2 separate regions of the Homo sapiens genome follow, and region 1 is linked to region 2. The links come from fine-mapping of genetic effects on gene expression. A gene starts in region 2. The other region holds a variant in brackets. All regions are shown on one strand. Distances are between the middles of the regions.

Region 1 (8,000 bases), 49 kb before region 2:
GCACAGATTCGTTCTTTCTTTTGTTTGTTTGAGACGGAGTCTTGCTCTGTCGCCTAGGCTGGAGTGCAATGGCGTGATCTTGCCTCACTGCAACCTCCACCTCCCGGGTTCAAGCGATTCTCCTGCCCCAGCCTCCTGAGGAGCTGGGATTACAGGCACGTGCCACCAAGCCTGGTTAATTTTTGTATTTTTAGTAGAGTTGGAGGTTTCACCATGTTGGTCAGGCTGGTCTCGAACTCCTGACCTAGTGATCCCCCCGCCTTGGCCTCCCAAAGTGCCGGGATTACAGGCGTGAGCCACCGCACCCAGCCCAGGTTCACTCTTTCTTTTAATAACCTCCAGGAAAGCCCTGAACCTTCCATGCTGTCTTCCCCTCTACCCCCACATCCACCACACACATAATGCTACTGAGCCAGAGCCAGGCCCTGTCAAGAAGGGAAGGGAATGGTTAACTCCCTCTCGGCATTTCTAAGAGAGCTGGATAAGAAGGTGAACGTTCTGCAGGATCCCTCACAAAACTCCAACACTTGCAGAAGGAAAGGTTGAAAGTGAGCGGGGAAAAATACAACAACAACAACAACAACAAAAAGCAGGGTAGGTGTTCCAAGGAGCAGAAACATTTTTGTGTCCTGATACTGTCTTCAGTGAAAGCCTAGTTTCTTTTATCAACGTGCTGGAAGGTAAGGGGACACACGGGAAGATGCATGGAGCCCTTCTTTCTAGCTACAAATGTTTGAAAAGAGCTGATGTGGGAACTGGTAAAACTGGCAGCTGACTAGTGCTGACTTCCCACGGAGCATCCCATTAGAGTTAATTACGGGACTGGGAACTTTTGAGCTGTATGGTTTCCTTCCGCCCAAATAGTCAGAGCCAAAACTTTTCGTCTTTCTTAAGTATTTCTGTTTATTTCTAATCCCCATTTCAAAATTGCTATGTATTTCTTCAGATTTTGTGACTTTCGTGACCATTTTACAAAGTCACTGCTTCCTTGCAGAGTTAATAGCTAGTCATTCTTTATAACTTAGGTAACTGCTAGGACAAGAGAATCATTTCAATCACATATACCTTGGGAAAGTATTATACAGGCTAGTTTCTGAGGCAATTCTGGCCTGGCCAGACCCCAGATGCCCACCCCACCCCATACTCCAGTGTAAGCGAAGCTGCTCATCAACAACTTCTGTGCTGAGGGGCAGGGCCATGCTTTGTACTGGTTGCCATCCAACTCCCAGGGCAGCCAACCTTTAGGGTGGCTGGTAACCTGACCTGTACCCTATGTCTTATGATTGGCATAAAAAGATAAGTTGGGTCAACCACTCTTCACTGAGAAATCCTTCACTGGCAAACAAATGCTGCAGCAGGGGCAAAAGTCAAACTGTACGTAAAGAGAAGTCACAAAAAGAGGCCACCACAAGCCAGTTCCAACAGAGCAGTTCAGTGAGGAGGGAAGAACAGAGAACCCACAAACAGAAGTGGACACACTGGAAAAAAGAGGCCATGAAACCCCCAAGATAGTGTCAAATGCAAGCTTGGTGCCACTGCTTTTGGTGCATGTTAATTCCACCCCGCCTTCCTTACAATCAAATCCACTTTATCTAAGTAGATCTGGGTTCCCTGCGACCAAATAAGCCACTCTAAAACAAGACACCCTCCCCCAAAAAAGTTTTGTTTTACTTTTTCTAGTACCTTCAAAGTAAGAAATAATTTTCATGCAAAATAGAAGAATGTCACGATCACATGGCTAAGCCAGAAGACAGTTTCTAATTTATGGAATGTAACAGATAAAAACAATTTAAAACCTATTAGAAGTTGTTAGAAAGGAGGAATCATTTTTTTCTTCACCATATTTCCAACCAAGTACTGATTACCATTGCTGTATTATAACAATGACCCACAGAAGAATTATATGTCTGGGACCTGGGGTTTTTGCCAAAAATATCAGACTGAAATATACAGACCTAAAGATAATCAATTCAGAAGAAACCTATAGATTTTTGTAGGAAAACAGAAGCAAAACACAAAATAAATCAGGTATGTAATAGGAGAGAAATAAAGGAATTACCTTTTTAATAAATAATTCAGACCTTGTTCAAGACTATCCTAAGGAAATTGTACCAGGGTCCTTACAAGAACTGAATTCCATCACTAGATAGGACCACTGGGAGTTGCTACGTTAATTTAATAAATCAAATATGCTACAACAAGGAGCAGTACCAGCCCATTTGGGAAGCACTCTAAGGGGTATAAAACTGAGGGTTAAACCAAGGTACCCATTTAAAAATGAAAGGCATTTGAGTATCCCATTGGGGTATCTATTAGGATGCCCTATTCAAATGTTCAGTAAAAATGAATCAATAGTGGGATCTGAAAATCAAAATAAACTCACAAATATACCACACAAATTGAAGTGGGCAAAGCCACCAGCAGCCTAATTAGAAACACATTAAGACAGAAGATGCCTGAACGCAAGCAGGTCTGTTCACTACAGGGAGAGCATACCAAGCAACTGAGACACAGCCAAGAGAAACCAACCCTTCCCCAGGGCAGGTTTCCCTTGCCACAGCAGCACCCAAGCACTGGACAAAAACCATGCCACCAGTCCTCAATATCATGTTCAGCAAAATAAGTGGACAAGGTTAAATGATTGCCCAGCCCACTCTCTAACTCTAGGAATCAGATTGAACTTATTTGGAGAAAGCTGTCTCCTAAAACTTGTGTTATGAAATTTTTTTTGGAAAATGCCTATAAGTTAACTGACCTATTCAAAAATGGCATTAATTTCACCCCAAGAATCATATAGTTTTCCCATAACTATCAGGGAAAGCACCTCCAGTAATATTTATCTAGCTATATTTGGGACATGGATGAAGCTGGAAACCATCATTCTCAGCGAACTATCACAAGGACAAAAAACCAAACACCGCATGTTCTCACTCGTAGCTATATTTACTAAAAACACCCCCAGCATCTGAAGAGACAAATAGGCAACCCAAGTGGAATCTTTCTTACCATTTCGAGACACATCTAGTTCCACCAGCTGCATGAAGTTTGCTATTTCTGGAGGGAGCCGCTGAATTTCATTATCACTAAGTCCAAGCTTTCGTAATTTGACTAGCTGGAAAAATTGCTGAAAGACAAAAGAGTTTAACATAGATTTCACATATGTTTGTATCATAAACTTTTGGGCTACTATGAAATGTAAAACAATGTCTTTTAAAAACTAATGAAGGTTGTAGCAACATCAATTTCCTAACTTTGATGGCAGTACTGTAGTTGTGAAGATGTTACCATTGGGAAAAACTGGGTATAAGGAACCTCTCAGTACTATTTTTGAACTTCCTATCAATCTACAATTATTTCAAAATAAAAGGTTTTTAAAAATTAATGAGCAACTTAAAGAACAGTCACTCCTTTAAGCTATCCAGTAGACAGAAATATCGACTTATGAAAATTGACATTAAATCTGCAATGCTAAAGACATGTAAAAATGTCTTTTAAAAATATTATTTAAATTTTAAAATATTTTAAAAAGACATTTTTTAAAGAAATTATTGTATATCAGAAAGTATAATAAATATCCCACAAATGTGTGCAAGCAAAAAATATATTTTTGACCAGTCTAAAAAGTCTGCACTGGATACTTCCATCAACCATGGCAGACTGAGTACATGCTCTTTCCCCATACTTTTTAAAAACTGTATTAAAATGACACTAAAGGAATTTATATACACATGAACATAAATATAATGTGAAATAAGCCCATGAAGACAGAAAATGAAAGAGTACAAAAAGCGAACTAGATATGCAACAAAATCCTTTAAGCTAGAAAACAGAGGGATGAATGGTAACTAACAAACAAATTGAAACAAAGCTGAAATTTAAGCCTGTGGGGCGAGTAGCCAATAAGAAACTAGGTCCAGGTACCTCTGAGGAAAGGAGAACTGATTGAAAATTTATATAATGAACAGTTAAACTGCCATATTCTCTTCTCTACCCTGCAGAGCCAGGCAGGAGCCTGGAAATTTCCTCTCCAGAAGAGGTAAGTCCTACCACAGCTAAGCACAGCTGAGGGCAGGGGGTAACATAACCATGCTAAAAACAGGGGACTGAGACAAAGCCTGGTCAGTAAGATCCCACCCTCTCTTCTCCCTGCATCCCGGCTCCTGGGCATGAGCACAGACTTGCAGACACTAATCTTCCTATAAAGAAGCTTCAGGTTATAAGCCTCACCAACACACGGAGCTTCCAAACAGGCCCACCTCATCTGATCTCCACTGCCACATGCAAGAAAGAGAATGTGCG[C/T]GCACGCACACACACACACACACACACACACACACACACACACACACACAAACACATACCCCCCCACCCCAGAGGAAACAAACATGATGCAGGGAGCAGAAAAAATAATTCCTCAACCAAAAAATAATTAATATCCTCAGAGAAATCACAGATGAAGCAACATAACACCATAAAAAGCATAATTAGAAGAATTAGAAATAAGCTTTCAGAAAGTGAAAAATATTGTAGCATTGATAAAAGAATCCCATAAAAGAGGTGAAAAATAAAGTTAATAGAGTCCTCAGAAGGTGGAATAAAAAGACAAAAAGATGGGAAAGTGGGAGAAAAAAAGAGAGGAAAACTAATGGACCGGTTCACAAGGTACTACAAAGTAATTCGTAGTTGAAAGAGAGAAATACAGGAAACTGCAGGACATGCTTTTTCTGGTTTGAGAGGGCCCACCATGCGACCAATAAAATGAATGAAAAAAAAAGTACATACCAAGGCATACCATAAGATGTTAGAACTCCAGAAATTAGATTCTAAAAGTTTCCAGGCACAGGAAATAAAGGAAAAAGGTCTTAACAAAGAATTGGGTATCAGAATGGCACTGGACTCAAAAGCAACCTTGAAAGTAAGAGGGCAATAAAGCAATGCCTTCAAAATTCCAAAAAAATCATTATTCCCAACCTAAAATTATATACCCAGCCAAACTATCAATTAAGTATGATTACAGAATAAAAACATTTCAGTCACGCATGGTATCAAAAAGTTCAGTTTCCTTGCACCTTTCTCAGGACTCCATCAAAATATGTAAGTAAACTTAAAAGAAAAACAACCTGAGATCCAGGAAACAGAGAATCAACAAAACAGAGAAAGGCAAAGGAAATTCCCAGAATAAAATCATGAAGGGAATTCCAAAATGTTGCTTGAATATCAGGCCCCAAGAGCAACCCATCTACACTGCAGCAATATGACAGCTCCCAGAGGGAGGTTTTGAAAAAATAAATAAAAACACACCTGAGGAATTATCTGACATGTTTGGAAGTATCAAAGGAAATTTGCAACTCTTTCAGAATGTTTGGTGATAAATTAGAAATAGGCATAAAGAAAACAAAGCAAGCAAAAGGAAAGAGGGTTATTAATTCCAGGGAAAATATAAAGTGAAAGAATATATAATCATAATATAAAATTTGATTATGAACAGTACTTACAGTCATAACATTATAATATCTATATTGGTAAAACCAAAATTTATGTTATGTCAATATTGAGAGAATGGGAAAGAAACTGTAAGAACTAAAGCCTCATCTTCCACAAAAAGAAATCCATAAATAACTCAAAGAGGAAAAAAAATCAAGCCGCAAAAGTCATTTAGCAATATGGAGGCAAATATTCGCAGAAATAGTCAAAAGCCAGAAACCGGAGTGGGGAAGGAGGCAAGAGGCTGCTGTTTTTCACTGTCACACTAAACAGCTTATTAGATTTTTAAACTATTTGCATACATTACTCTGCTAAAAATAGAAATTGAATTTACAAATGAAGAAGTCTCTACTAAGATTACAGGATGCTCCAAATGTTAATTTTGTAGGATGCTAACATTTAATAGACTTTATCTTTCTTTTTTTTGTTGGTAAAAAAGATTGTATATTTATATAATCATACAATTGCCTCTTGGAAAGCAATTGAGCAATACGTAAAAGAAAAAATCTTTTCAAGTCCACTGAAATACTTCTGGACACCTGTCCTCATAACTGAAAATAATGCACAAATACATCTTTGCACTATTATGTGTAAAAATAAAAAACTAGAAAACATACATTTCAAATAAGAAAAATGATTGCATATTATTAAATAATTCAATATTATGCAACAATAAAAATAAATATTATAAAGACCACAGAACTTGAAAAAGATTTACCATGCAAATATAACTTAAAAAGAAAACAAAATTGCTGATACACTACATTAAAAAAGCATGTGTGCATGTGGACTGACAGGAAGAGAACAAAGAAGAAAAAAGCAGTTATGTTGGGTGACAAAGATAATGCATGAATGACTTTTTAATTTAAAAACCATATTTTTTTAAAAAATAAAATGAACTATAAATCTCAGCAAATGAATGCTACCAATTAGCTATACAAGATGATGAGGAAAGTGCTCAACTACAGGACTAATCCTTTGCATTTCTTTACTCATGCAGTTGAGATTTAATTTCTTAAGGAAAGATATTGAAATGTCTTTATACTGGCTGAACTAAAGCATCAGCCAGCACAAAAGCCATTCAATAGAGTCACGTATTTGAATAATTGAGCTTATGCCAATTGTACAGAGTCTTGACAGTTTCATAATACATCAATGTGTTTACTCAAGCATGAAAAGCTCACTTTGTTTTCTAGGAAAGGCATAATAGCAAAACTACAAAACCCATCACCATCTCCATACATTCTGGGACCATTCAGAAATAAGACAAGAAATCAAGTCAATAAGGTACTTAGATGTACAGTGAATAATAAGTTCACTTTACATCTGTGGAAACGATAACCTACAAATCCTCACATCCAATAGAAGTCATAACAGCATGCAAATTTAAGGTTTGGTTCTGCATGTTACCAGCATCCTCCACTAGAGCCTGTCACAAATACTACTTTATTCAACTTGGGAAGTACATGCCAGATGTAAAAACAACCCCATCTGACATGATCCCAAATGAAACCAGTAATTCCTTAATCCTTCCCTCATTATCCTGATGTGATCTTAATATGGTATCCAAAGATCAACACAATGCCAAGGAAACTGTATTAAATTCTCAAATATTCAGCTTCCTTAGAGAGTCAGGAAAAATAACTCACTAAGCTATAAACCCTTCTGCCTTGCCTTTGAGATCAGCCAGAGCCCATGAAAAACAATTCCTGTAGCTGTCTTGGCAGGAAGCCTCAGTGCAGTGCAACCATGTGACAGAACACACAGACACCATTCTTCAACTCTACCATGTTTGATTATAGCTCACTAACCCACTTAGAGCACATTCTGTACAATTATATGCAAAGGAACCCAAATTGCCTCGGGTTGTTATGCTACACCCATCTTCTTAGAGCCACCATTGCTTTTAGTAGATACAGCCTTTAATTTGGCTAAATGTTCTCCCATTCTCCATTTCTGACAAGATTCTTTTCCTTCTTTTTTGGTAAAGTGTTAGTACCTCCCTTCTGCTTTTTAGAAAGGGACAAAGAAAATCTCAGTCCTAGAAGAGCTGGGTCCCCTTTTATTATTATATGGCCAAGGATCAGTCAATTGTCCCCCAGTTGCCCAAACTTCTCCTCTGCAATATAGAGAAAACATAAACCATTGTTACAAATTCAAATGGAGAACAACTAATGTAAAAAATGCTATTAATTCCTGAAAAACTATGGGACTCCTAACTATAATAACACCAAATTTACTCACAGATTTCCTTCCCAGAGACATTCTAACCTATCACATACATCTTGACCCCTTTTCATCCTACATAACTCTCATACCATCCCTACTCCGGTCCCCATCAACCTAGACTGCCTTTTTGGTCAACCACCTGTATGTGGTTGCATGGTAAACCAACAGTTCTAATCTCAAGGTAAGATGCACAGTACACATCATTTGTGTCATCTGGTATTGTTCTTTTCTGTGAGACTTGCAAAAAGTGACTGTGACTTTGTTACCCAGAAGTTATACTACTAGGTATA
Region 2 (11,505 bases):
AGGTTACAGTGAGACTGCCTTTGTTAGCACAGAGCCAAAAAGGATCAAACTGCGGGTATGGGGGAGAAGTAGGTGGATGCAAAAAGGATGGTGAGGCTATCACCCAACTGCAACCAAACTGAAGATGAGGGATCTGATGCAAAAGGTTAAAAGATTAGGGAAGTAACCATCAAGTCCATAGCTTAGGAGTAGTTTAACCGTGGTGTCCTTTCCATCCCACACTAACTACATCTGGATTAAAATCATCTGCTTCCTCCCAAAGATGTGAATCATGCCTCCTTTAATCTCTATATTCCCAATAACTTGTAAATAATGGAGTCTCAATAAATGCTTGGCTAAGGCTAAGTTATAATGACATGAGTAAAACAGGAGAGACTAAATAAAGATTTGATGGGTGTGAGAAGCAGGATAGAAGATTCCTGCTAGGTGTCCAAAGCAATTGTATTTGGCTGACATCTGAATGAACAAGACCCACCAGCAACTGCATCTAACTCACTGGACAGCCCTGAGAAAGTCACCTCAATTCTGAATCTGAATTTGTAAAAGGAAGATATTGGCGCAAACCAGAAGTTGCAGGCCTTTCAGTGGAAAGAAGGTGGCTGTTATTACACTGAAACCTGGAGAGTGCATCTTTGCTGCCCTGGTAAGGGGTACCGGCTTCCCCTTAAGCTGTGCTTCCAAACAAATTATAGAGAGGAGAACATACAGCTGGTATGGCCACCAAAATAAGGACCTTTGAGGCTTGTGAACAAAACAGATGCGCTTGTGTGTGGCAGGTAAGGAGACAGGGGTTTGGAGCAGGAGCAGCAGAGACCAGTGGTAATAAGTTATACAGATCTCAGAGGTGAGACAACAGATAGCCCAAGGAAAGAATGGAAGGGATGGAACAGATATCTATGTTTGCAAGGTGGTTCTCATGTCTGGCATGTACACACCCAGGCACCAAGACACACAATAAGTCAGGGAGAAGTAGATTTTACACAACCTAAAAACTTTAATACTAATTTAACAGCTGTTAGAGCAATAATAATCCATTAGCAAGATCACCTGTAACCTTTGAAAAGCTTGTTTATTTACCATATTTACAGAGTGCCATCAGACTATATTTTGAGATTCTGACAAGTTTCCATTTAGGATCACAGAAAGACCTGACATTTCGGCTTGGCATGGGAAATTATGTAATTTCCCATGCCAAGCTGAATTCCCCAACATTACAGGAAAACCCACAAACCCTGCAGAAGGGAGTGAAAAGCCAATCCAGTCAAAGGAAATCTTCCAGTTCTACAAAAGAAAACAAAAAAACAAATACCACAAAGAGCAATGAATCATTTCTAGTGAATAACTTTTCACTCCATCTTCAATAATGTCATCCTGAAGCCCCTGAAAACTATTAAATTACATATTCTATATTCCTGGTGATATCACTGCCTAAAATTACACAACTTAAAGCAGTGAGGGAGCTGACGACTGGTAAGAAATCTTCAAGGACGTAAAAGGCCAGAAAAAAATCATGTGTTTGAAAATGCCTGCGAAATAATAAACGCCTGAGGGAACTTGATGGCTTTGCTGCTTCTAAGCTAAATAAAGCCTGGGGGGCTTTGCAAAGGTCCTAGTGAGGATAATCTCCATGATTACACAGAGCAAACATCCAATCAATTCCACATGAACCCAGGAAAGTTAATCCAAGAAGAACACCACCACTTAAAATATTGAGAAAAACACACAGTTCTTATTGTTTAAATGCTCCATCAGCGCTGGAGAACGTATCAGGTCATTCTAACAAGTCAGAACACTTGACTAGTGTTTCTGTGACAATGATTTGGCTTGTGTTAACTAAAGGGCAACAAGAAGTTTGCGTTCCAAAGCTCAGGCCTAAAACAGGTCCAATCCCCGACTGCCAGCAGTCTCCCTACTTCCTGCACACCTTTGGATTATTGCACACCGACTTCCTGCACACACCTGGGTTTGAGACACCTTCCCCGAGGGGTTACTCTAGCTAAGTTCCCGAGGCAAGCTTGAAAGAAGTTCGCTGTACCCCTACTCTCGGTCAAAGCACCATCAGCACATGTCGCTTGACAAGTTCGGCGGCAATGGAGTGATCAATTTACATAAACAACTCTGAAGAGATAACGCATCACTGCAAGGAGAGAAAGTCAGCAGGACGACTGTGCCCGCTCCGGGAAAGGCGGCTGCAAGGCTGGCCCGCGGGCAGAGCCTCCGCTGACGTTCACCGCAGCTCCCACCACGCAACAGGTCCACGTAGGCAAGGCCCGGGCGGCCGGCATCTGGGCACCTGCCCCTAGCGCTCCAGGCCCAGCTCTCCCCTGCGCCCATCTCGCGTCCACCCCCGCAGCCACCGCAGGCCAGCCGGCCAAGCCCACCCGCGATAAAGCACGGAGCACATTCCTCATTCCTCCCAAGATGCCGAGATAGTGCGGCCCGCTTGAGCGCTGCCCAGGTCACAAGGTCCTCCGGGACATGCCTTGACTAAAGGAGAGGCGCGCCCGGCCCTTGGTGGGGGAACGACCCCGGGGAGTGGAGGGGGGGAGGATGCAGTGCTCTGTAGCTTCCAGATGGAAACAGCCCGAATCACCCGGCTTCTCACCTGACCGGGCACAAGTGCCAGGTGTCAGTACCTAGCATGGATCTAAGTTACTTAACAGTCCAGAACGCTTCTCCAATAGCACGAGCCCCAGTGACTACGCGCAAAATATCCGGTCACTTTGAATAAAATGAAAAGGAACTTTTACTGGGAAAGGATGGAAGTAAAGAGACAGGGGGAGAAAGAAGCAGGTGAATGCATAAAAGAGGGAAGGTTCCTTCACGCCGGACCCGGAGATGGAAGAGGGGACGAGAGAGGATGGGAGCGGAAGGGACAGCAGACGAGCGGGCAGAGCGCTCAGGTGAGGCCGGACCCTTACCTCGGGCAGCTCGCGGAGCTGGTTGGCGTCCAGCAGCAGCTCCTCCAGGCTCCGGGCATAGCGGTAGATCTCCTCGGGGACGTAGACCAGCGAGCAGTGGCGCTTGTCGATGCTCTCCACATGACGGTTGCACCGCCACAGGGGGATGCAGTGGAACATCGCCGCCCCCGCCGCCGCCTAGCCGGGTCCCGAGCGGCGGAGACCCGGGCTCCGAGCCCGCTCTGGCCGGCGGCTCCGCTCAGTCCGCTGCCCTCTCCGCGCTCGTTGTTGGCTCTTGGGTTAGCTCGCTTCTCGCGCCGGGCTTCGCGGTCGGAAGTGCTTCAAGGAACCTGGAGCGGGAGCCCCTGCCCCGTCCCTGTACCCCCGCCCGCCAGCCGGTGCCTCCACTCCCACCCGCCAGTCGCCGTCGCCGCCCCCGCCGCCGCGCGGAGCTTCCTACTCGCAGCCGCCGCGCGGACTGAGCATGCGCGCCAGTGGGTGCGCGCCGAGGGCGTTTCCCGGCCCGAGGGATGCTCCGCTCCGGGTTTTCCCGGCGACCTGCATCCAGAGAGGGTCGACTGACCTGCGGGCCGGCTGCTGGCGGTCTGCTTACTCCGGCAAAGACGGGGGCGCATCGGGCCGTTTGAGGAAGGCAGACTGTGAAAGGACTTGGGACAAAGATGAGGCGGAGTAGAGGCGGCCTGAGCAGAGCAGAACAACTTTGATATTTAGTTTTATTTAACTCGCACTCCTCTCCTTGCTCCCCTTCCCCAAAACAACTTTCTCTTCCGGGGTCACACAGGACCGCCCCAAAGCGTACCTTGCGCGCCGGGGGCGCCAGGCGCTACTGGATTCGGTGTAGTTTTGAGGTGTTTGCACCACCCTCGCTGCTGCTTTCGTGGCTGCCCGTGTGCCCGCTGCTCACGGCTGCCCCAGAAGTGTGAGCTGGCCGCGCCCGGCCCTCTGGTCCTCGGGCACCGCCTGCAGGCTTTGTAACTTGGGAGCACATCTCTGGTGATCATGGTTTATGCAGTGAGTGATAGTAAATCCTCCTCCCTGTACCAGCAAAGGCATAGGAGTCTGAGAGTCTGCGAGATTCTCATAGATGTGGTTGCACCTGGCAAGGAGCCCAGCTGCAGAAATAAGCAGGCAAACGCGAGTTTCTGAGCCAGTTCCAGCCCGGCCCAGATGTTGGCCCCTGACAACTAGCTGTGGCTGGTGCGGAGGGAGGAGCGAGGGAAGAGGGGCAGATCGAGGCTGCCAGGTGAGCATCCTCCATACAGCTCCTGCTTTTCTGCTACAACCCCAGTCCCGTCCAGCCCGGATGACCGGGGAGGCTCACTATTGGGTTATAACAACCATTCCCTCGCCCCGACTCATTCCTGCGGACCACGGCCGGAATCCTGAACTGCCCCTCTTTGCCTGTAACTGTTTGCAACACAGTCCCCATCTCCGAATAACCAAATTTTCTCCTTTAATGAAGGGTTGCTAAAGTCAAGGTCAATCACAATGATGAATCATTTCCTTGGGGGCTTCTCTGATTCCCCACCCGGCCGCCCCTTCGTTCCACACTTTCCCTTTCAAGCATACTCAAACTCCAGGTTTCCACCTGCGGCCGCTGCCACGCTGGCTCTCCCACACTCACTCCCGCCCTCCAGCTGCTATAGCTAAAATCTGGAGCCACGGAGTTCACTTTTCTATAGAAGACAAAGCTGAGCATGCTCAGTGGCCAAGGCAAAGTTTGGTCGGAAACTAGTTTTTGCATTAGACTCTCCATGGGCTCCATAGACTCTCCTGTACCTTACGACTAGGCACAGGAGCGTTTCCCCGGTGAAATGGAGAAGAGGACACTTGGTCTTTTCAACTTTACTAGGAGGGCTCCTTTCTTCCCAGTCCGTAAGGAGGGGTCTGACTTTCATTTCCACCCCAGCATTATCACCTTAACTCTCATTCCAGTCAATCCCGAAACTCCGTTGCCCTACCCACTTCACCCTTCTTTTGTTTGTCCTGATTTGATTCCTGCGTTCTCACAGAGGGCTACCTGGACTTTGAACCTCCACCCCCCTTTCTACATTCTTGCATTCCAGAAACATATGAAGCTCATTTCTGCCACCCTTCCTAGAAAACTGGTTCCTGACAGAGACATGTGGAAAGGTAAGTAAGTCCCTGTCTTCAAGTTTTCCAACTGCTTTTTAAAAAAAAAATTAAAGAAGGCTAGTTCCCTCCATTTAAAATAATGTGATTTCCAGAGGTTATCACACTAGATTATTTTAACGAACACCAAATGTATTTTAAAGACGTGTCCAGTCTTTTAAAAATTCAGACCTCAATAAGCATTCCTTGTGTGCCTCTCCATGATGCTTCAGCTTCTCTGTGTTATTATTTTTGTATCACCTTAATCCGAAAGAGATTATGACCTCTTAAACAACAGATACTGTCTCACTTGCTTTGTAGATCTGGGAAGCTGCCACAGTGCCATATGCACAGTCAATGATCAACAGTTTTTGTTGATTTAATTCTATGGGTAGTCACTGGGAGAATTCTTGACTTTCCTTGTTTCCAATAATCTGCCAAGAATTTGAAACAGCGTAGTAAGAGAGAAAAAATGAAACAACACCTTGTCAACTACAGAATAGGGAAGCAATTAACTTTTTACTCACCTGAAGAATTTTAGGGTTTCCCGCCTGATAAAACATCTAGTTTCTTCCGCCACATACAAATGAGTTTGACTCAATTTAAACAAAGTTTAAAAAGACCACCTAAATCACTTTATTCTTAGAATAATGTAATTCTTTTATTCATTTGTACTGTGAACCATGTTTTCACAGCCTTTGAGCTAAAGAGATCTGTGTTTGAACTCTTGTTATGCCACTAGCTTCGTAGAAATTGACAGTTTACTTAACTTGTATAAGCCTCAGTTTTATCATATCTCAAATGAGGATGATTCATGGGATTGTTATCTGGATTAAATGAAATGACATATGTAAAATGCTTAGTACAGTATCAGACACACATTACTTTAATCAATAAATATTAATTATGCACTTTATTAGCCAGCCTCCAGGAAGTTAGGGACAACATCCACCATCTCCTGGTTGGTCTATGTAACCAACTTTTTCTTTCTCGAATCACTCACTTTGGGGAAGCCAGCTGCCATGTTGAGCAAATCTAGAGCTCCACATGCCAAAGAATTGCAGACTGCTGACAACAACTAGCAAGGGACTGACGATTCTTGGCAGTAGTCATGTGAGTGAGCCATCTTGGAAGCCAGTTCTCCAGCCCTTGTCAAGCCTTCAAGTGACTGCAGCACCAGCTGATAGCTTGACTAAAACCTCATGATAGCCTCAGACTCAGGACCACTCAGCTAAGCTGCTCCCCACTCTTGCCCCTCAGAAATTATGTGAGACAGTAAATGTTTGTTGCTTTAAGCTGCTAAGATTTGGAGTAATTTATTACACAGCAACAAATAACTAATAAAGGTACATACTATGCACCAGGCATTGTGCTAGATACTAGAAATGTAAGAAAAACAAGATAGGTCTTAGCCTCATGAAGCTTACTCTCTGAAGTTAGGAGAATGATAAATACTTAGTGGTCTGTTGTTGCTTTATCATTAATTTTTTGAGCATGATATCATTAATTTTTTTAAGTGAAAATCCAAAGTGTTAGCGTGTAAGATAGGGATTCTTGTAAATGGGGATTCAGAGGTTTGGGCATGTGAATTTTAATGTGACATACCACCGCCTAACCACTAGAATGACTTAAAATTAAAGAAAAAAAAAAAAAGACAATCCCAAATGTTACTGAAGATATAGAGCAACTTGGCCCGGCAGAGTGGCTGACACCTGATTCCAACACTTAGGGAGGCCCAGGCGGAATGGGGTGGAGGGATCGCTTGAGGCCAGGAGTTCAAGACCAGCCTGGGCAACATAGGGAGACACCCACCTCTACAAAAAATAAAAAATTAGCCTGGCATAGTGGCATATGCCTGTAGTCCCAGCTACTCAGAAGGCTAAGGTGGAAGGATCACTTGAGCCTCCTAGTTAGTTTGAGGCCGCAGTGAGCTGGGCACTGCACTCAGCCTGGACAACAGCATAGGACACTGTCTCAAACAAATAAAAAAATGGAACAACTGGAATTCATACACTGCTGGTGGAAGTGTAAAATGGTAAAACCACTTTGTAAAACAATTTGGCAGTTTATTGTAATCATATGCCTACCTTAATGATCTACCCATTCTACTCCTAGGTATCTGCACAAGAAAAAGTGAAAACATATGTCCAAGCAAGGATTGTTTACAAATGTGCATAGCAGTTTTGTTAATAATAGCCCCAAACTGGAAACAATCCAAATATTCATCAACAGACGGATACAGTGTAGTATAGTGAAACAATGGACTAGCATTCAACTAAAAGGAGCAAGCTACTAATACATGTAGCAATGTGCATAAATCGCAAAAACTATGTTGTGTACAAGGCAAACACAAATGAGTACATACTATATGATCCCATGTATATAAAATTCTGGAAAATGCAAACTAATATAAAGTGACACAACCTAAATCAGTGGTCTAGAACCTGTTAGTTGGGTTGTAGGAGGGATTGTGGTGATAAAGATTGATGATGAAAAACAGAGAATTTGTAGGGGAAGTGGGCGATGGAAATATTATATATCTTGATTGTGGTGTAGTTATGTGGGTATATACTTTTTTCATCAGACTGTATAGTTAAAATAAGAAACTATTACATAAGATATATATATCACTAAAATTAATTCTAAAAATTAAAAAGTATACAGGTGAATGTATCCAACAAGTTGCAAATTACATCTAGGGTTAGGGATCATGTTGTATTAGTTGCTCAATAAATATTTACTTGTTCACTACATGCCAGGCACTGGGTTAATTTGCTGGAGAGACAAAAAAGAACAAGACAGGGCTTTCAGTCTTACTGAAAGAAAGGCAGCTATCAAGGAACTTATAAATCATAGTACTATTGTAGTGTGATACAGCTTTTTTTTTCTTGATCTAGAGAGGATGACTTTTTGTCCTGTAAGAGATTATTTGAGGTATTTAGATAACAGGTCAAATAGCAAATTAAATCTTAATGATATACAAATCTGGATAATAGAAAGATAGGTCAATTTGTATATGAATCCCAAAGCCCTCTCTCAGAGAAGAAGCACTCAGATCCCAACTCATGATTCTCCAAGGTTGAGTTTATGGATATTTCCTGAAGATTATGTATCTGTGCTATAAGGGAAGGCTACACTCAAACCATTTGAGAAACCTGAGAGCCTGCAGAATTACATGGATACATTAGTTTAGAAGTCAGCAATGTTTATGATCAGAACCAAAGTAATTACCCTAAAATCTCTTTGATTCATATTACTATTTAAGTTGAAATTCTGTCCCCATCCCTTGCTTTTTGGTTGAAATGTTTAGTCCATTTACATTTCATATAATTATCAGATGATTTGGACTTAAATCTATTATTTTATTATTTGTTTTCCATGTGTACCATCTGATTTTTGTTCCTCTGTTCCTCCTTTTTTGACATCTTTTAAGTAAATAAATATATTTTATAATCTCACTTTATCTATTGGCTTTCTAGCTATCGTGATTGCTCTAGGGAATATAATATGCATCCTTAAATTTTCACAGTCCAGTTAGAGTAAATATACCAATTCATATAAACCCTTGCATATGATTCCTGCAATTATCTAGGTCCGTTTGTCAACTATCTGGTGCTTTATGTTACAATTTTTATGCAGATTACATTTATATGTTATAAACCCCACACAAAATTTTTCATATTTTCTTTTAAAATTCTTTAGTATTTTAAAGAAATAAGAGGAAAAAATTGTCTTTTATATTTACTCACACGTTTATTTCCAGTGCTCTTCATTCCTGTCTCATGTCATGTCTCTTCACCTGGAAGTTTGTTAAAGATTTATCTGCAGATGTCTTTATTGTACCTTAATTCTTTATAAATATTTTCAGTAGGTATACAGTTCTGGGTTGACAAGTTTGCTGGTTTTTTTTTTCTTCTCAGCACTCTAAAAATAATCAATTTTCTAATTTCTTATGAGAAGTCAGCAATAACTCAAATTGGACCTAATTTGTATGTAATATACCATTTTCTCTGGCTGCTTTTAAGATTTTCTCTCTGTTCTTGGTTTTTAGTAGTTTAATTAGTATATGTCTGTATTTATCTTGATTATGGTTTACTGAGCTTCCTGAATCTGTAAATTTATAACTTTCACCAAATTTAGAACATTTTCAGCCATTGTTTCTTCACATATTTTTTGCCCATTCTCTTCTTCCCTTTTAATACTTCAATTTTTAAAATGTTAGACCTCTTGATATTGTCCCACATATTTTTGAGGTTCTGCCTCTTTTTTCCCTGATATTTTTCTCTCTGTTTTCCACATTGGATAATATATACTGTTCCAGCTTCAAGTTTACTGGTTCTTCTGTCATCTTCAAACTGCTGCTAAGCCCATCAGAAATGCAATTTCAGATGGTGTATTTTTTAGTTCTGAAATTTCCATTTGGTTCTTTTTCTATATAGTTTCATTTATCTGCTGAGATTTCCTATGTGTTCATTTATTAAGAGTTTATGTTCCTTTACATATTTGATTAAGGTTATAATAGCTGCTTTAAACTCTTTGTAGGCAAATTCTGAAACCTGGGTCATCTTAGAGTCATTCTGCCTTGATTGCATTTTCTTTTAAGTATAGGTCACATTTTTCTGTCTCCTCATATACCTAGTAATTTTGGATTATGTCCTGGATATTGTAAATAATAGAATCTCTGGATTCTGTTATATTCCTCCAAAGAGTGTTTTTGTTTTGTTTTGTTTTAGCAGCCTGTTAGCTTGGATGAAATAAAACAAAAAACTCTTATTTTCTCTGTGGTACATGGCAGCTGAAATTTGTGTTCAGTTATTTTATTCTTAATTAGGTTGCTTAAAAGCTGAACTACACATGCATAATTTAGCGGTCAGTCAAATATTTGGACGATTTATATGCAGAATCTGGAGCTTCTGTTCTCACTCAATCCTGTCTGAGGTTTCCCGCTTCTCACTTTCAAGGTGCCTTTGTCACCCCAACTCTGATGTATGATACATTGAGCCAGATTGCTCTAAACATGAGTTTTAGCTGATCTATGTGATAGACTCTAGTGTATGCTTGTCAAAGTCATAAAAGCAGAAAATTCACTCTTCTTCCTAGTATAGATTTTCCTTCAGTTGCTGCTTGGTTTTGGCCATTCTGCAGTACCTTCAGATAGTTGATTTTTGCATTTTGTTCAGCACTGTAATTGTTATCTGTGGGAAAGTTGGTCATGTAGTAACCATTCAGTTGTTTTTTATAAATTGTAATCATTTGTTTATATAGCTTCACAGATTGTAAGAGTATGTGGACAATCCAAATTTTCTTATTACTAAGATTTTAATCTACCCCTCCATTCATAGGAGTTACAAATGAGCAAATTGAGTTTTCTGCTTTTCTGTTTTTCTCAATCTCCTTATAAAGGTTCTCATGATGAGTCAAATATTGAACAGCATTTTGCCTTGGTGGAAATGAGCCAAAACTACCTGTAGTGTGGGGTGGTATAAAGAACTCATGATTTTGCATTGAATTTTTGGATCTGCCACTACTAGGGATGAGATCTTGGGTTAATCATATTTAACTCCAATATTCTTTATTTCTACAAAGGCATGAAAAATGCCACCCTCAAATGGCTTTTGAGAGGATTATGGGTTAATGTAGTGGAAAAAGTTTTCCATACTGCAGAACACAACACATTAGGCATTATTCATTGTCAATACTCTTTGCTCAGTTACCAGCCAAAAGAAAGCCTATCATGTGAGTACATTGTTTAGGTAAACAATATGTAAATTATCATATCAGTTGATATGAGACGGTAAAGTATTTCAGTAGGAAAGAGACTATATCAAAGAAGCCAAATCAAAACCAGGTATCTGCCACTGAATCCATCTTTTTCCAGGCCTCTGCCTCAGCCTCATGGTCTCCTTCTTTGATAAAACAGGAAGGTGAAGCTTAGAGGTGGCTCAGGTTGTGGCAATGCTTTACATTTGTGTAATGCTTTATCGTTTAAAAAGAGTACATTAGCATACATTGCCTCATCTGATCAAAATGTACTTTTTAATCATTTAAGTAAACATAGATGCCTCATTTATTTTTCACCTTCATCCACAAAAGGTTTAAGAAAATCATATAGCCGTGTCTCTTCTTATGTTACTCTTATTTTATTGTTACAGTTCCTACAATATAAATTAAATCAATATAGACATTGTTTTCACTGAAGGCCAAGGTCTACTTTGTAATTAGTAAAAATTATACCTATGAGTGAAACCACTCCACTGAGCACTGTCATTCAAACAGTTCAAAGACCATTAGTGATCAAAGTATGTTGATCAGTTAACTAACATAAGCCTGAAAGATCTCCTATTTCTCCAGTCAAGTTAGCACTATCCATAAAGTTCATGCAAACTTGACTGGAGAATAAGATACCTTTTAGGGCTAGTCAACTTGAAATAATATGTTATTAATAATGCTGTCTTGAAAGAAAGAAAGAAAA

What was found. PIP is the estimated chance that this variant, and not a neighbour inherited with it, causes the effect.
Region 1: its variant is fine-mapped to the expression of LRRC1 in anterior cingulate cortex (GTEx, PIP 0.97).

The regions. Positions count from the first base shown.
Region 1 is chr6:53,837,234-53,845,233 of GRCh38, reverse strand. LRRC1 (leucine rich repeat containing 1) reads right to left here. Exons shown (of 14, transcript NM_018214.5): 2 at 3,007-3,124. Among named protein-coding and RNA genes, the nearest start is that of LRRC1, 46 kb to the right of the region's middle. The variant C/T (reference allele first, on the strand shown) is at 4,300.
Region 2 is chr6:53,786,832-53,798,336 of GRCh38, reverse strand. LRRC1 (leucine rich repeat containing 1) reads right to left here and starts at 3,332. Exons shown (of 14, transcript NM_018214.5): 1 at 2,922-3,332. The coding sequence starts at 3,080. It overlaps LOC124901333 (a long non-coding RNA gene), which reads left to right and starts at 4,662. Exons shown (of 5, transcript XR_007059619.1): 1 at 4,662-4,796; 2 at 4,988-5,054. RefSeq lists an enhancer at 2,548-3,260 and silencers at 3,227-3,466, 4,512-4,641.